4 linked regions of the Homo sapiens genome follow. The protein of the gene in region 3 interacts with the protein of the main gene of each other region in a pairwise test. Each region holds a gene or a part of one and is shown on either strand. Other genes may lie near its edges. The genes, in order: STX8, LAPTM4A, TMED8 and ZDHHC16.

The links.
Region 1: the proteins of TMED8 (region 3) and STX8 interact in binary tests that used the Homo sapiens proteins (3 or more experiments, as listed by UniProt).
Region 2: the proteins of TMED8 (region 3) and LAPTM4A interact in binary tests that used the Homo sapiens proteins (3 or more experiments, as listed by UniProt).
Region 4: the proteins of TMED8 (region 3) and ZDHHC16 interact in binary tests that used the Homo sapiens proteins (3 or more experiments, as listed by UniProt).

Annotation. Positions count from the first base shown.
Region 1 is NC_000017.11:9,502,651-9,506,458, reverse strand, and holds part of STX8 (syntaxin-8), read left to right. Parts: intron 1-1,296; coding exon 1,297-1,421; intron 1,422-3,808. UniProt on the Homo sapiens protein: Vesicle trafficking protein that functions in the early secretory pathway, possibly by mediating retrograde transport from cis-Golgi membranes to the ER.
Region 2 is NC_000002.12:20,041,555-20,045,362, reverse strand, and holds part of LAPTM4A (lysosomal-associated transmembrane protein 4A), read left to right. Parts: intron 1-3,808. UniProt on the Homo sapiens protein: May function in the transport of nucleosides and/or nucleoside derivatives between the cytosol and the lumen of an intracellular membrane-bound compartment.
Region 3 is NC_000014.9:77,345,791-77,349,598, reverse strand, and holds part of TMED8 (protein TMED8), read left to right. Parts: intron 1-3,118; exon of another isoform or gene 3,119-3,120; coding exon 3,121-3,250; intron 3,251-3,808.
Region 4 is NC_000010.11:97,452,517-97,456,324, forward strand, and holds part of ZDHHC16 (palmitoyltransferase ZDHHC16), read left to right. Parts: intron 1-378; coding exon 379-407; intron 408-1,013; coding exon 1,014-1,147; intron 1,148-1,282; coding exon 1,283-1,330; intron 1,331-2,197; coding exon 2,198-2,283; intron 2,284-3,085; coding exon of another isoform or gene 3,086-3,143; coding exon 3,144-3,267; intron 3,268-3,457; coding exon 3,458-3,528; intron 3,529-3,808. UniProt on the Homo sapiens protein: Palmitoyl acyltransferase that mediates palmitoylation of proteins such as PLN and ZDHHC6.

The sequences.
Region 1 (3,808 bases), on a different chromosome or scaffold from region 3:
TTATTCATTGCCTTAGTCCTTTCCTAAGAAAGGTGGGTGGGGGGGGGGGGGAGCGGGTGAGCACCAGCTGACTCTAATCAGTCATCTTGCTGATGTCCCACCCATCATTTATTCTATGATTTTTCATGAATCTGTTGAGAGCTCTAAAGATGAGTCTAATGTTCATCTCTTTGTTGAATTGGTCAGAAGGTCGTGTCCTGGACAAGATGATCTTCTCAGCTTGGACAGAATGCAGACAGGTGGGGAGAGGAGAGGAGCTACTTGAGAGGAGAAAAATCCTGAAAACATGGGGACTGAGGTGGAAATCATGTGTTTCCTGTTCCTTAGACAGCGAGACCAACTGGTCTCGTGCAGAAAGGGCACATGGATTATTAGAGGGAGTAAGGTTAAGATTGACAAATCAGAATGTGTTTATTCTGTTATGAATGCTACATTATAGTCACAAAATTGGTATTGAAACCCTGCATGTGTTTCTGTCTCTGAGCAACCAAATACTCCTTTTTTTTTTTTTTTTTTTGAGACAGAGTCTTGCTCCGCTACCCAGGCTGCAGTGCAGTGGCGCCATCTTGGCTCACTGCAACCTCCGCCTCTCAGGTTCAAGCGATTTTCCTGCCTCAGCCTCCCAAGTAGCTGGGATTACAGATGTCTGCCGCCAAGCCCGGCTAATTTTTTTTGTGTTTATTAGAGACAGGGTTTCATCATGTTGGACGGGCTGGTCTGGAACTCCTGACTTCAGGTGATCTGCCCGCCTCAGCCTCCCAGAGGGCTGGGATTACACACATGAGCCACTGCGCCCGGCTCCAAATACCCTTTAATGGGAAATTATATGGTCTTTTTTTAAAACAACAACAACATTGTAATCTGTAGTCGCAACATTGTGTCTGCTTGAGAAATAATATTTGTACCTTTGGGGTCACGTAGCCTCTGAGACAAACTTTGTCCTAATAAAAAGGCCGCTGTTCGGCCTTCTGTTTTTGAAATTTAAGAACCTCATTTATTACCAACTTCTTTTAGGATTATTAACTCAAACATCTCTTGGAGGATTAGTACAAATATTATGTTCTCCCATCATCTCTATAACAGGCTGTAATTCTGAGGACCAAGCTTGTGCCTTATTCATCCTTGTATCTCGTCCAGCACTGAATACAGTTCCTGGCATAAACTAATGATGCAATAAATTGTGTTTGAATTGAATTTTCAAAGCATTCAAGGCTGGCCACCTCTGCACTTGTGGGAGTAATTTGCATTTGAGCTGCATGTTTTGAGATATATCATGCATTTAATATTGTTCTTTAGGTCCAGCCTGATGAGTGAAGAGGCTAAGCGAGGAGCACCCAACCCTTGGCTCTTTGAGGAGCCAGAGGAGACCAGAGGCTTGGGTTTTGATGAAATCCGGCAACAGCAGCAGAAAATTATCCAAGGTACTAAATATCCTGAGGAGTGTGGGCTCAGAAACCTTGCCAGAATTTTTTTTTTTTTTTTTTTGAGACGGAGTCTTGCTATGTCGCCTAGGCTGGAGTGCAGTGGCGTGATCTTGGCTCACTGCAACCTCCACCTCCCGGGTTCAAACGATTCTCCTGCCTCAGCCTCCCGAGAAGCTGGGACTACAGGTGCGTGCCACCATGCCCGGCTAATTTTTTGTATTTTTAGTACAGACAGGGTTTCACCCTGTTAGCCAGGATGGTCTTGATCTCCTGACCTCATGATCTTCCCACCTTGGCCTCCCAAAGTGCTGGGATTACAGGTGTGAGCCACCGTGCCCGGCCACCAGATTTTCTACTGGAGCCTTGTTTGTTCCTCATCCCCATTGAAAATTGGAGTGAAAACTGCTGGTCTTTTAAAGCTTTTGGTGTGTGCCTCAGGATACCTGAGGAATAGACAGTTGCTGTCACTCATCTCGGTGGCTCATGGAAGTGGTGATTTTCCATTGGGCAAGAGCAGAGAGAGCAGATCTGAATCTAAGTCCAAGCAAATTTGATGCTTATGCTCTTTACTTTAGCTTCACGACTGGGAATTAGTCTCCAAACACAAGACTCCATTTTATTTTTTAAATTATAAAATATGTCAGTTTGGCTTTTCTTTTTTATCTTTTGCCCTGTGGCTTTTTAACTTTTTTTTTTTAAACTTTCTTATATTTTTAAAATTTCAGAAGTATGCATGATTGTTATACAAAGTGTAAACAACATAGGAATGTATAAGATGAAAGCCCTCCATATTGTTTCTCCAATCTCAAACTGGAAACAGATTAATATGTATTTCCTTAGACCTTTTGTATACATTCACATACATATATTCAATATAAATATACTTATTTTACATAAATGGAATCATGAGATATTTAGCTCTCTCCATATATATATATAATTCCACACCTTTTTAAAACTTAGTATGTGTCGGCTGGGTGTGGTGGCTCACGCCTGTAATCCCAGCACTTTGGGAGGCTGAGGCAGGAGGATCACCTGAGATCAGGAGTTCGAGACCAGCCTGGCCAACATGGTGAAACGCCGTCTCTACTAAAAATAAAAAATTAGCTGGGTGTGGTGGCACGCACCTGTAGTCCTAGCTACTCAGGAGGCTGAGGCAGGAGAATCGCTTGAACCCAGGAGGCAGAGGTTGCAGTGAGCCGATATAGCATGTCACTGCACTCCAGCCTGTGCAACAGAGTGAGACTCCATCTCAAAGGAAAAAAAAGAAAAAACCACTTAGTATGTGTTATGGACTTTTTAAAATGTCAGTATGTACAGATACATTATTCTTTCTAATTCTGCTTTTTAAAATCAGCTTTATTGCCAGGCCTGGTGGCACATGCCTGTACTCCTGACACTTTGGGAGGCCAAGGCAGCAGGATGGCTTGAGTGTAGGAGTTTGACACCAGCCTAGGCAACATAGTAAAATCCCATCTTTAAAAAAATTAATGAATAAAAAGGAAGAGGGAGGAGGAGGAGGAGAAAATAAATCTAAAGTCAGCTTTATTGAGATGTAGTTGATATGATCATAAATGGCCCATGTTTGAAGTATATGATTTGATAAGCTTTGACATATGTATATGCCTGTGAAACCATCACTGCAATAAAAATAATGAACCTAATTGTTATTCCCAAAAGTTTTCTTCATGCCTCTTTGTAATTCTTCCTATTGTTCCTCCCTGCCATGCCCAGACAACTGCTGAACTTCTTTCTGTCACTATAAATTAGTTTCCATTTTCTATAATTTTATATAAATAGAACTATACAGTATGTACCTTTTGGGGAAGAAGGGGCTCTGGCTTCTTTGTCTAAGCATAATTATTTTAAGATTCATTGAACTGGTTATGTGTATCAGTATTTCACTCTTTTTTTTTTTTTTTTTTTTTTGAGACAGAGTCTGGCTTTGCTGCCTAGACTGGAGTGCAGTGGTACGATCTCAGCTCACCACAACCTCCACCTCCTGGGTTCAAGCAATTCTCCTGCCTCAGCTTCCCGAGTGGCTGGGATTACGGGCGCCCGCCATCATGCCCAGCTAATTTTTTTTGTATTTTTAGTAGAGATGGGGTTTCACCATGCTGGCCAGGCTGGTCTCGAACTCCTGACCTCAAGCGATCCACTCGACTCGGCCTCCCAAAGTGCTGGGATTACAGGCATGAGCCACCGCGCCCGGCCTGCATTTCACTCTTATATTATAGATTTGTATTCCATTGTATGGATTTACCACAATCTGTGTATCCATTCACCTGTTGATTAATATTTGGGTGGTTTTCAGTTTTTGACTGTTACAAAGAAAGCTGCTATTAGCATTCATGTATAAGACTTTGTATGGACGTAAATTTGCA
Region 2 (3,808 bases), on a different chromosome or scaffold from region 3:
ACCTGACCAGCTGGGACTACAGGCACACACCACTGTCCCCAGCTTAATCATTCTTTTTAAATTACATTTTTATTAACTTTCTTTCCTGAATACAGTGAAAGGAAAAAGTGAATCAGGAATAAATATTTGTAATAGTTAGTACATAGTTGGATATTTTCAGAGAAATTTTGTATTGTAAGATTACAGTTAATTTTATGTATTTTTTGAAAAGCTAAACATGTAATTTAGAAATATCAACTTTAATCAGAGATAAGTTGCCAGGGCTTACATGTGAGCACAAGGTAGGCGTTCGTTGGTGAATATCTTTAAGATCAAAGGATGCCAGGAGCGGTGGCTCGTGCCTGTCATCCTAGCACTTTAGGAGGCCAATGCAGTAGGATCACTTGAGGCCAGGAGTTCAAGACCAGACTGGACAACATAGTGAGACTCCATCTCTACAAAAAAAATTTTTTTAAGTCACAAGGATGGGTTTTCCAGTGTAATACTTTAAGATGTAAGTTGGGGTTCTAATGAAATGATGTGATCTAATGGAATATAATTAACTCAAAGAAGATTTGGAAAAAGCTTTTAATGAAGTAGCATTGAAATTTATTTCACTGTTTCTTGGTCCTTCTGATTGGCCCTACGATTTATTTTGTTTAATATTTAGTGGTATGACCCACAGTGAAATTAAACTTGAAGTGTCTCTAGTACTAAAAGAAGATAATAGTGGATGAGCGTGTGACTTATCCATGGAAGAGAAGAAAAGTGAAGAGTTCTTTTGTTTTTTAAGAGACAGACTTAGTATTGTTGCCTAGGCTGGTCTCCAGAGCTCAGGCGATCCTTCCCACCTCAGCCTCCCAAGTAGCTGGGACTATAGGTGTGAGATTTTTAGAAATCCTTCATGTAATAAAAATATTTAAGAAGGGAAAATAGAACTCCTAAATGTTTTTGGCATGTCATTCCCTTCATTTAGTAATTGGGTTTGCATGCTTTTCTTGACAAAGGAATTTCTGTACCGCAGAGAGCTTTTTCACTGTGACTATGCTGTGTTTAGCAAAGAAGAGTTTGCCTAATTGATTTCAAACTGATTTCCATACACAGAACATATAACGTTTTAGTAGATATATCTGATAGTTCAGTAATTAATTCACCTAGTTGTATTAGCTCATACTCATACACCACACACGCTGGCCAAAACCCATTGCAGCAAATGTGGGCAACAAAAAAAATCAGCTTTCAACTGGGGAGAGCCACCTTGCAAAAGTGATTGTTCCTGGTAAGTCCTCTCAAGAATTGAAAGATATCATGCCTTGCCTCTGAACAATGCAAGGAAAGAGGCTTGCTGCTGAACATAGACAGTAAAGTCTAAACATTTTATAGCCTTAGATAATGGTTTCTTTGGGAAAGACCTTAAAATAGGAGTTACTGGGGAATGTTTATTAATAATCACGTAGTGCTGAGAAGGAGGATGTCTTAAAAACCAGACTTGTGTCCTGATTCTCCCATCTGTCAGCTCAGCAAGCTTAACACAAGTTATATAGCTTTACTGAATCTTAAGTTTCCCCATCTACACATAGGCTTTGGTAATACTTACTTCACGGGTTGTTGTGAGGAATAAGTGAAGTAATACACGTAAATACACATGTCATAAAGCATATCCTCAATAAATATTGGTTGATTCCAAATTTCATATTGTGGCATTGTTTAGATCACCTACCCTAAAATAAAACTTGATCTGCTTATCTAGCGGATGTTAGTGAAATGACTTCAGCTGATAAAAGGAAAATGCATTTCCTGTGTGTTTATCATTCAAGGTGAAACAGGAGAGAAGTATATAATAGTTTGTTTAAAATACTATCGATAGCTGGCCGACACAGTGGCTCACACCTGTAATCCCAGCACTTTGGGAGGCCAAGGCTGGTGGATCACTTGAGGTCAGGAGTTTGAGACCAGCCTGGCCAACGTGGCGAAACCCCACCTCTACTAAAAATACAAAAATTAGCCAGGCTTGAATGGTGCACGCCTGTAGTCCCAGCTACTCGGGAGGCTGAGGTGTGAGAATGGCCTGAACCCAAGAGGTGGAAGCTGCAGTAAGCCGAGATCGTGCCACTGCACTCCAGCCTGGGTGACAGAGCGAGGCTTGGTCTCAAAAAAAAAAAAAAAAAAAAAGGTCCCAGCTACTTGGGAGGCTGAGGTGTGAGAATTGCTTGAACCCAAGAGGTGGAAGCTGCAGTGAGCTGAGATTGCGCCACTGCACTCCAGCTTGGGTGACAGAGCAAGGCTTGGTCTCAAAAAAAAAAAAAGTCCCAGCTACCCCGGGGACTGAGGCAGGAGAATCGCTTGAACCCAGGAGGTGGAGGCTGCAGTGAGCCGAGATTGCGCTACTGCACTCCAGCCTGGGCGACAGAGCGAGACTCCATCTCAAAAACTAAATAAATTAAAATACTACTGATAGGAACTTAACCCTTGAAAATTCCAGATGTTCACATTTTCACAAAGGGAAGGAGGGCAAATTCTGTGAACTTTACTATGCTAGATAAGGAAGCCTAACTCCAATCCTACGTGAGATTTCTGTCTTGAGTCGTTAACAATACTCTTTCTGAGTACTTAAATGCAGTGAAGCCTCCTGGGATACCACAGGGATTGGCCAACAACTACAGGCACAACTCATTTCCTTTTAAAATGGATTTACAACCCTGGGAGACTAGGAAAATTCAGATATTATAATGGGATTTCAGCAGGCTGTTCCTCTAAAGAGCTAAACAATTTTATTCAGAAGTTGCTAGTTAATGGGAAGGGGCAGCCTCTGGCAGCTTTGTCCTCACCTCTGTTCTCTTTTGTTAGTAACTTAGATGGAAATACTGATTACATGCTGATCCTAAATTCAGGAAGTTGAGACAGTAAATCTGTAGTGTGTCAGAATCCACATCCAGAAAATCTTCATAGGCAAGAATGTAATAAGATGAAACTCAATTACAGGTATATTAAGGCCTATGCTTGGGCCTCTGAATCCAACTGTACAGGTGGGAGCTTAGCACAATCAAGTGTGAAAAAGAACTTGGTGTTTTAGGGAGTTACTCTCATGTGATATTCAGAAAATTTGTAAAGCCAATGCAGGCTGGGTGCGGTGGCTCATGCCTGTAATCACAGCATGTTGGGAGGCTAAAGCAGGAGGATCACTTGAGGCCAAGAGTTCAAGACCAGCCTAGGCAATATGGTGAGACCTTGTTTCTAACAAAAACAAAAAACCTCAGTACAACTTCAGGTTGCATTAATTGAAATTCGTTAGCCAGAATATGAGAACTGAGATCCCATTATGTTCTGACCAGGGTGACTTTACCTCATTTTAATATATGTCCATCAAACTGGAGCATGTGTAAAGAGGAAGACAAAAGGGAAATAGGTAGCTAGGAAACATGCTAGTCAGAGGAATGGCTTAAAGATCTGCATGTCTATTCTAGAGAACACAGTATTTGGAGGCTGTTTTCAGGTATTGGAGCACTTATTTAGAAGGGAGAGCACATTATCTCAAAAGGTAGATTTAAGGCCGGGCGTGGTGGCTCACGCCTGTAATACCAACACTTTGGGAGGCTAGGGCTGGGTGTATCACTTGAGGTCAGGAATTAGAGACCAGCCTGGCCAACATAGTGAAACCCCGTCTCTACTAAAAATACAAAAATCACCCGCGTATGGTCGTGGGCACCTGTAATCCCAGCTACCAGGTGGCTGAGGTGGGAGGATCACATGAGCCTAGGAAGGGGAGGCTTCAGTGAGCTGAGATTGCACCACTGCACTCCACCCTGGGCAATAGAGTGAGACTCCATAT
Region 3 (3,808 bases):
GAAGAGTTAATGTCCTAGAAGAGTATTCTAGGCAGAGATTACAGCAAATGCAAAAGCTCTCAAGTGGGAGAGTACTTGGGGTGTTTGAGGACTATCAAGGATTGAAGAGGCTGTTGTGGCTGGAGGGACCAGGGCAGAGTGAGGATTCTGAGAGGTGAGGTCAGAGTGCAAAGGGCCTTAGGGCTGGGCGAGGTGGCTCACGCCTGTAATCCCAGCACTTTGGGAGGCAGAGGCGGGTGGATCATCTGAGGTCAGAAGTTTGAGACCACCCTGGCCAACATGGTGAAACCCCGTCTCTATTAAAAATACAAAAAATTAGCCAGGCATGGTGGTGCACACCTGTAGTCCCAGCTACTCAGGAGGCTGAGGCAAGAGAATTGCTTGAACCAGGGAGGCAGAGTTGCAGTGAGCCGAGATCCGAGATCATGCCACTACACCCCAGCTTGGGCGACAGAGCAAGACTCTGTCTCCAAAAAAAAAAAAAAAAAAAAAGGGCCTTAGAGTTCCAGGTGGCAGGCTTGGTTCCCAGTGCTGTGCATACAGAGGCAGTGAGACCCAGTGCCTGCCACCAAGCTTACTTTCTAGTAGAGGAGGCAGATGATACACAGTGTCAAGAAACAGAAATGGACTATAATTTCTGGGTTGAAGAGCATTAAAATAGACCCACAGCCTAGGCCAGTTTACAGCTTACACTGAATTACCCAAGTGAACCTATAAAGATCAACAGAATCCCACAGCTCTGATTCTTGGAGTGACCTCCTCTTGTCTGTCCTGAGGTAGGTTGGAGTAATTTTGGATATTCCAAAAGATGGCTCTGTTTTATCTGAAGGAGTGATTCTTCTTGTTTATGTTAAAAAAGAAAAGAAACAAACTAATAAACTCTAAAATGAAGCCTCCGTTTCCCCCATGAGGTGTATACTACCATTTTCCAGTCATTTACTCAACCTCTTTGAGGAAATGATGCCCTCAAGCAGGGATTCTCAGACCTTTATACTCTTAAAAATTATTAAGGACCCAAAGAATTTTTGTTTGTGTGGGTTATATCTATCAATATTTACTATATTAGAAATTAAAACAGCCGGGCGCGGTGGCTCATGCCTGTAATCCCAGCACTTTGGGAGGCCAAGGTGGGTGGATCACGAGGTCAGGAGATCGAGACCATCCTGGCTAACATGGTGAAACCACGTCTCTACTAAAAATACAAAAAAATTAGCTGGGTGTGGTGGCCGGCGCCTGTAGTCCCAGCTACTCGGGAGGGTGAGGCAGGAGAACGGAGTGAACCCGGGAGGCGGAGCTTGAGTGAGCTGAGATCGCGCCACTGCACTCCAGCCTGGGCGACAGAGTGAGACTCCGTCTCAAAAAAAAAAAGAAATTAAAACTGAAAAATTAGAATATGGTTATTTGTTCATTTAAAAATAATAACTCATGACATGCTATATATAAAACATGTTTTTACTTAAAAACAACTAATTTTCAAAGCAAAGAATGTAGTACAAAGAGAGACATAAATCTCTTTAATGTTTGGCTTAATAAAAGGCAGTTGGATTCTCAGCTCTGCTTCTGAGTTCATTCTATTGCGGTATCACATGTCATATAGTCTCTGGAAAATTCCACTGCACACTCTTGAGAAAATGAGAATGAAAAAAGGGAAATAACATTTTAGTGTTATTATGAAACAGTTTGAACTTCATAGACTCCCCCGAAGGGCCCCTAGACCATACTTGGATAACTGCCATTCAAAAAAATCCATGTCACCTTTTATCAGCAACAGATTCCCAAAAGGCCTGGGTTATTTTGCTACAACCGTGGCACTAATTTTCTAGTTTTTGTGAGGCCAGGGGAAATGGAAGAGAGCATAAATCATTCCCTTGCATCTTTATAATCAACTATTCATGGCTGAGCACGGTGGCTCACGCCTGTAATCCTAGTACTTTGGGAGGCCGAGGCAGGCAGATCACCTGAGGTCGGGAGTTCAAGACCAGCCTGACCAACAACATGGAGAAACACTGTCTCTACTAAAAATACAAAATTAGCCGGGTGTCGTGGCACATGCCTGTGATCCCAGCTACTCGGGAGGCTGAGGCAGGAGAATTGCTTGAGGTTGTGGTGAGATGCATCACTGGTGCACTCTGCCAAAAAACAAACAACTATTCACATAGCTGTGTTTGAAGCCATTGGGATTGTTGATTAATGTGCTTTAAAAAGGAGAGAAAGTGATGACCCCTAGCACTGAACGGGGACAGGGTATGAAACGGATCTGCTGAAAGACTGCCTCAGGGATAACTGCAGAGAGGGTTGCCTTGATCATCATTTTGTACTTTGTTTTGGTGCCCAGTCTCCCTTAGGCAGACCTCCTCCTTTTGCTTCTAGCCAGTGGCTTTGTGTGTAGAACTGAACTGAGATTCTACCAATTCCTCGGTTAAAATTCTGTGGGCCCTGTGGGCCGCAGAGTGAGGAATAACATTGGAACTCACAGAAGCCGAGGGCAGGATGGTGGTTAATAGGTGTTGGGGCCAGGGGGTGGGATGGGGAGATGTTGGTCAAGTGGTATAAGGTGTTAGAAGGAGGAACAAGTTCTGGAGATCTTTGTACAACATGGTGACAATAGTTAATAACAATGTATACTTGAAAATTGCTAAGACAGTAGATTTTAAATGTTCTCACCACAAAAAGGAGTATGTGAGGGGATGGATATGTTAATTAGCTCAATTTAATCATTTTACAATGTGTACATATATCAAAACAGCACATTGTACACCATAAATATATACACTTTGTCAACTAAAATAAATAAATAAAAGAAACAACAATGACAAAAAAAAAAAAAAAAAAAAAAAACCAGACCAGCAGTCCATCTCAGATGATGGAGCTGTGTGTTTTCCATGGTTCTCCTAGCCTTTGACCTGGCCTTGTTAGTCTTTGTTTTCACACTGTCAACACTTTACTGTGGACCAATTCAGCCCTGGGCAGTGGTCGGCTAAGGTGACAGTAGAGCTAAATAAATGCCAGGGGCAGGTGGGGCAGGGGGTATCTCGAATGTTGTTTTATTTCAAAGTTTCTCCAGGATGATTGAGTCTTTTCAAAGAGTCCTTGAATTAACATGCTCTCTTCCTCTGAGAGGCCACAGATGGTATCTCCAGTGAGTAAGGATGCCACGGAAGATCTGCGGAAAGCAACTGGTCCTTTGGAGGCTCAGGCCTTGGTGAAACAGGATTTGCTGCCTGCAGACCAGGCCCAGGTCCTCAATGAGGTAGGGGGCAGATTCTGGCTCTTTCTTATGAAAGGAGGCACCAGAATGTGGACACATAGTGGTTGGGTTGGAATTAGAAAGCACTGCGAGGGTGGCTCCCGGAATTCTCTCTTTGCCCTCTAATTTAGGGCATCTTGGTCTTCATTATTTTTTGGAGAATGATTATTTGTATCTTCCACAGGGCCCATCATTGTACTGGCACCCAGTAGGCACCGATTCAGAAAACGAAGTGTTAGAGTGAATGTTCATGTGTTCTCTAAAATCCTCTTCATTGAGGAGCCTGAAGTCATTGGACTATTTTGCTCTTACTTTTCTTGTGGTAGATCTATTTAGTATTTATGATAAAGATTCCACAGAAGCTTTTTTTTTTTTTTTTTTTTGAGACAGGGTCTCCCTCTGTCGCCCAGGCTGGAGTGCAGTGGCACGATCTTGGCTCACTGCAACCTCCACCTCCTGGGTTCAAGTGATTGTCCCACCTCGCCTCCCGAGTAGCTGGGATTACAGGCACATGCCACCACACCCGGCTAATTTTTGTATTTTTAGTAGAGGCAGGGCTTC
Region 4 (3,808 bases), on a different chromosome or scaffold from region 3:
TTGCTCTCTGGGAATCCCAGCTGTGGTCCTTCTGTAGCCCTAGGGCAAAACCTAACCTTGAGTTTGCTAAGACATGGGTGAATCACCCATCGTGTCCCAGGTGATGTGCCCTCTTCTCCTGACACCTCATCCTTAGGATGGTCCTGTGAGTTAGGCATTATTACCACTTGTGAAAACCGAGGTTTGGAGAGATGAGTTACCTTGTCCAATATCTTATAGCCATTAAACTGCAGAGCTGGGTTTGAAGCAAGGCCTGGCTGTCTTCAAAGTCTGTGCCCTTTCCACCTCAGCAGGATGCTGGTCCTTGTAGGGAAGGATTGGCACTGACATCTCAAGAACTTTGGCCACCGTAACAGAGCCTGTGTCCCTTCCTCACAGGTGTGTGCTGAAGATGGATCACCACTGCCGTATCCTTTTGCTTTCTCTTCTGCCTGAGGCCTTCTTTAGCTCCAGAGCACTGTACAGGGTTAATGGCCACCATTTTAGCATCACCGTGCAGAGAACACTGGAGTTGAGGAGTTGTGGGGCCTGACCATCTCCTGGGAGAGCAGGAAGCTCACACTCTAGGACGGATCTTCTTGGAGCAGGGAATCTTTTAACACCTCTTTCTTTTCTAGACTCTCATGCTAACAGCTATTGGATGGAAAGAGATGTTTGGGCTTCTGTGGTTGTTTACTGTGTACGCCAGATAGAACCGTGGGTCTCCAGCTGCTGTTCCACACAGATGTTTGGCTAACTCCAGCTAGGCTGAAATATTGGCAGATTCATTTTACTGAAGGATTTCAGTTTCCGTGACTTCTTGGTGGGACCTGAATGCTCTGAAAAGCTTTGAGCATTTTCACCTCAACCTTGGGTGTGAACAGTCTTGTATTTTCTTGCCTTTGGAAAGTAGTTCTTAGTGACTGGAAGCCTGAGGCTTGGGTGATATTGTCAGGAACCAGGGATGAACCTGAGGGGCCTGGACACCGCCTGAAATTGTGTTTGATTCTAGTCCTTAATCATTTCCCAACCAGCCTGGCTAAACAATTGTGTGGGCCACTATAACCATCGGTACTTCTTCTCTTTCTGCTTTTTCATGACTCTGGGCTGTGTCTACTGCAGCTATGGAAGTTGGGACCTTTTCCGGGAGGCTTATGCTGCCATTGAGGTGAGCTCATCAGGAACAGGGCAGCTCAGTAGTGCAGAACTTCGGGATGTAGAACCTGTCCCTAAGGAATGGGGCTGGTAGCACCCCATCCTAGAGGCCTGAGAGTATAACCAGCACTGTTTTCCGTCCCCTTAGAAAATGAAACAGCTCGACAAGAACAAACTACAGGCGGTTGCCAACCAGGTGGGCTGTCCCCACCCCACTGCCTCCTGCTGCTCAGGCCTGGGGGTATAGAGTTGCTAAGGCATCTGGGGCCGACCTGCCCATGTAGTTGTAGAGGCTGCCGAGAGGCCACTCTAGACCAGATCAGGAGTGTTCAGGCAGGCTGGCTGTGGTGGGTAGACTAAGTGGCCTACAGGCAAGCTGGAAGTCCCTGGTATGTGACAGTTTTGGCTATCTATCCCGTCATCACCTCTCTTTGGGTCGAGCAAGCAATCTGCCTTGGTGATGGCCTGAGCAGCAAGGAGTCTATGTTAGTCTGTGTAATGGGGTTCCAGGGGACAGAGATCAGGCAGAGCCAGTCTGATCATCCCTTGCTCCTGGTCCATCTGCATCTGGATCATCCCTGCCCCCCCAGTACCTTTTAGGACTCCCTAATCTGCTGAGCCCATCTTGATTGTATTTCTGCTGCCCTTTCACAGTCCCTAGTGGAGCTCACAGTCCCTAGTGGTTTTCCCCACTCCAGTCAGTCCATTCTGGGTATGGTCTGGTCTCCTCTCTTGGGGATGCAGCTGTGCAGTGAAGGAGTTCTGGCTGGGGATTGGAGTGGCTTCCCCTGGAGCCCCATTTGTGTTGTCACTCTACAGGCCCAGGGTCAGCTTCTCCTGTGCTTCACCATCCTGTCCAGACCCTGCTCTGCTGCCCAGTGTTTGTCCATGTGGTGATGCCGCTGGGCTTGGTCCACCCATCTTGGCTGCTACCCTAACTCCTCTGTGGCTTTACCCTGTTTTCTCTGCCTGGATTTGGATCATTTCCTGCCTATAGGTGCTGGGGGCAGTTGCTGGAGACCCACAGAGCAAATGAGCCAGCTTTGCTGTTTTCTTTTTCTAGACTTATCACCAGACCCCACCACCCACCTTCTCCTTTCGAGAAAGGATGACTCACAAGAGTCTTGTCTACCTCTGGTTCCTGTGCAGGTATTTGTTTTTGATAGTTTTAAGGGAGGGGAAGCTTCAGAAAAAAAGTTTTTTAGGTGCCCACACGCAGGCAGAAACCCATTCCTAAGTGAACTGCCACTGCTCTAGTCTAACTTAGGTTGGCAGAGAGCCAGCACTTTCTTCAGCATTCAGGGCAGGGAGCACTGAGGATATTGGCATTGCTTATTACTAAGCACACAGATACAAGTATGTGCTTGATATGTAACCAAAGTAAGTTAAACTCCTTATTTAATCTTAGCACCTGTCTAAAGGCTGGGTGACTGTATTTATAGATGAGGAAAACTGAAAATTGGGGGCCAAGGGGCAGTGAAGTGAAGTGACTTGTTCTATGATACACAGCTAGTAGGAATATTAGCACTGGAATTTGAATTTCATGCCATCCCATTCCAACCCTGGGTGTTTACTACTTCCCACTATCTCCCAAGCATGGGTATTTTAGGAAATATAGAACATTTTCTCAGCAATACAGACTTATTTCTCTATTCTCCTTTCCACATACTCTCTTTTCCCTTAACAACAACAGAGATGGAGTCTTGCTATGTTGCCCAGGCTAGACTCAAATGATCTTCCTATCTCAGTCTCCTGAGTTGCTGGGACTACTAGGCATGAGCTACCATGCCTGGCTTCACATCATTTATTCTTAGGCCACTTTGATGCTTTTTCATTGATGCTCTTTATAGACATAGTGAAGTAAAAGTTTATCTAGGATATATGGTGGGAGGTGAGGAAGACTTAGGTAGAGAGGTTCCAAACCAGTTGTTACTGCTTAGCTCAATTTCAGACATACTTCCTCCAGCCCTCTCTAAACTACCCACCAGTCTTCGCCCCTCTTTTCTTAGTTCTGTGGCACTTGCCCTGGGTGCCCTAACTGTATGGCATGCTGTTCTCATCAGTCGAGGTGAGACTAGCATCGAAAGGCACATCAACAAGAAGGAGAGACGTCGGCTACAGGCCAAGGGCAGAGTGAGTAGGGTTGAAGGCTCGGGGTGGGTAGGTGGGTAACTGAACTTGCTCTCCTGTAAACAGAGGCCATGGGCAGGGCTGACTAGGGCAAGCATTGTAAAAGGCCAGAACTACTCTATCTGAGCTTTAGCTTAGCCAATTTAGTCTGAAAAATTAGAAGTTCAAAGAAACATGTTTTTCTTGGCTCCAGGTATTTAGGAATCCTTACAACTACGGCTGCTTGGACAACTGGAAGGTATTCCTGGGTGTGGATACAGGAAGGTAATGTAAGACACACAGACTAATGCTGTCCAACAGAACACTGTGATGAGAAAGATGTTCTATGCCTGTGAGCACTTGGAATATGGCTAGTGGCTACTGTGTTAGCACAGTTCTAGACTCTAGGAATAGAGATCATTGTCCATTTGAACCAGAAAGGCTTGAGGCCAATACTGTGTGGTTTTAAGTAACAGATGAGGCTTCAACGTGACTACAGTGGAATCCTAGGAAAGCTGTGCTCAGGAAGGGGCCTCTGGGTGTAGGATATGGTGGCCACCAGTCA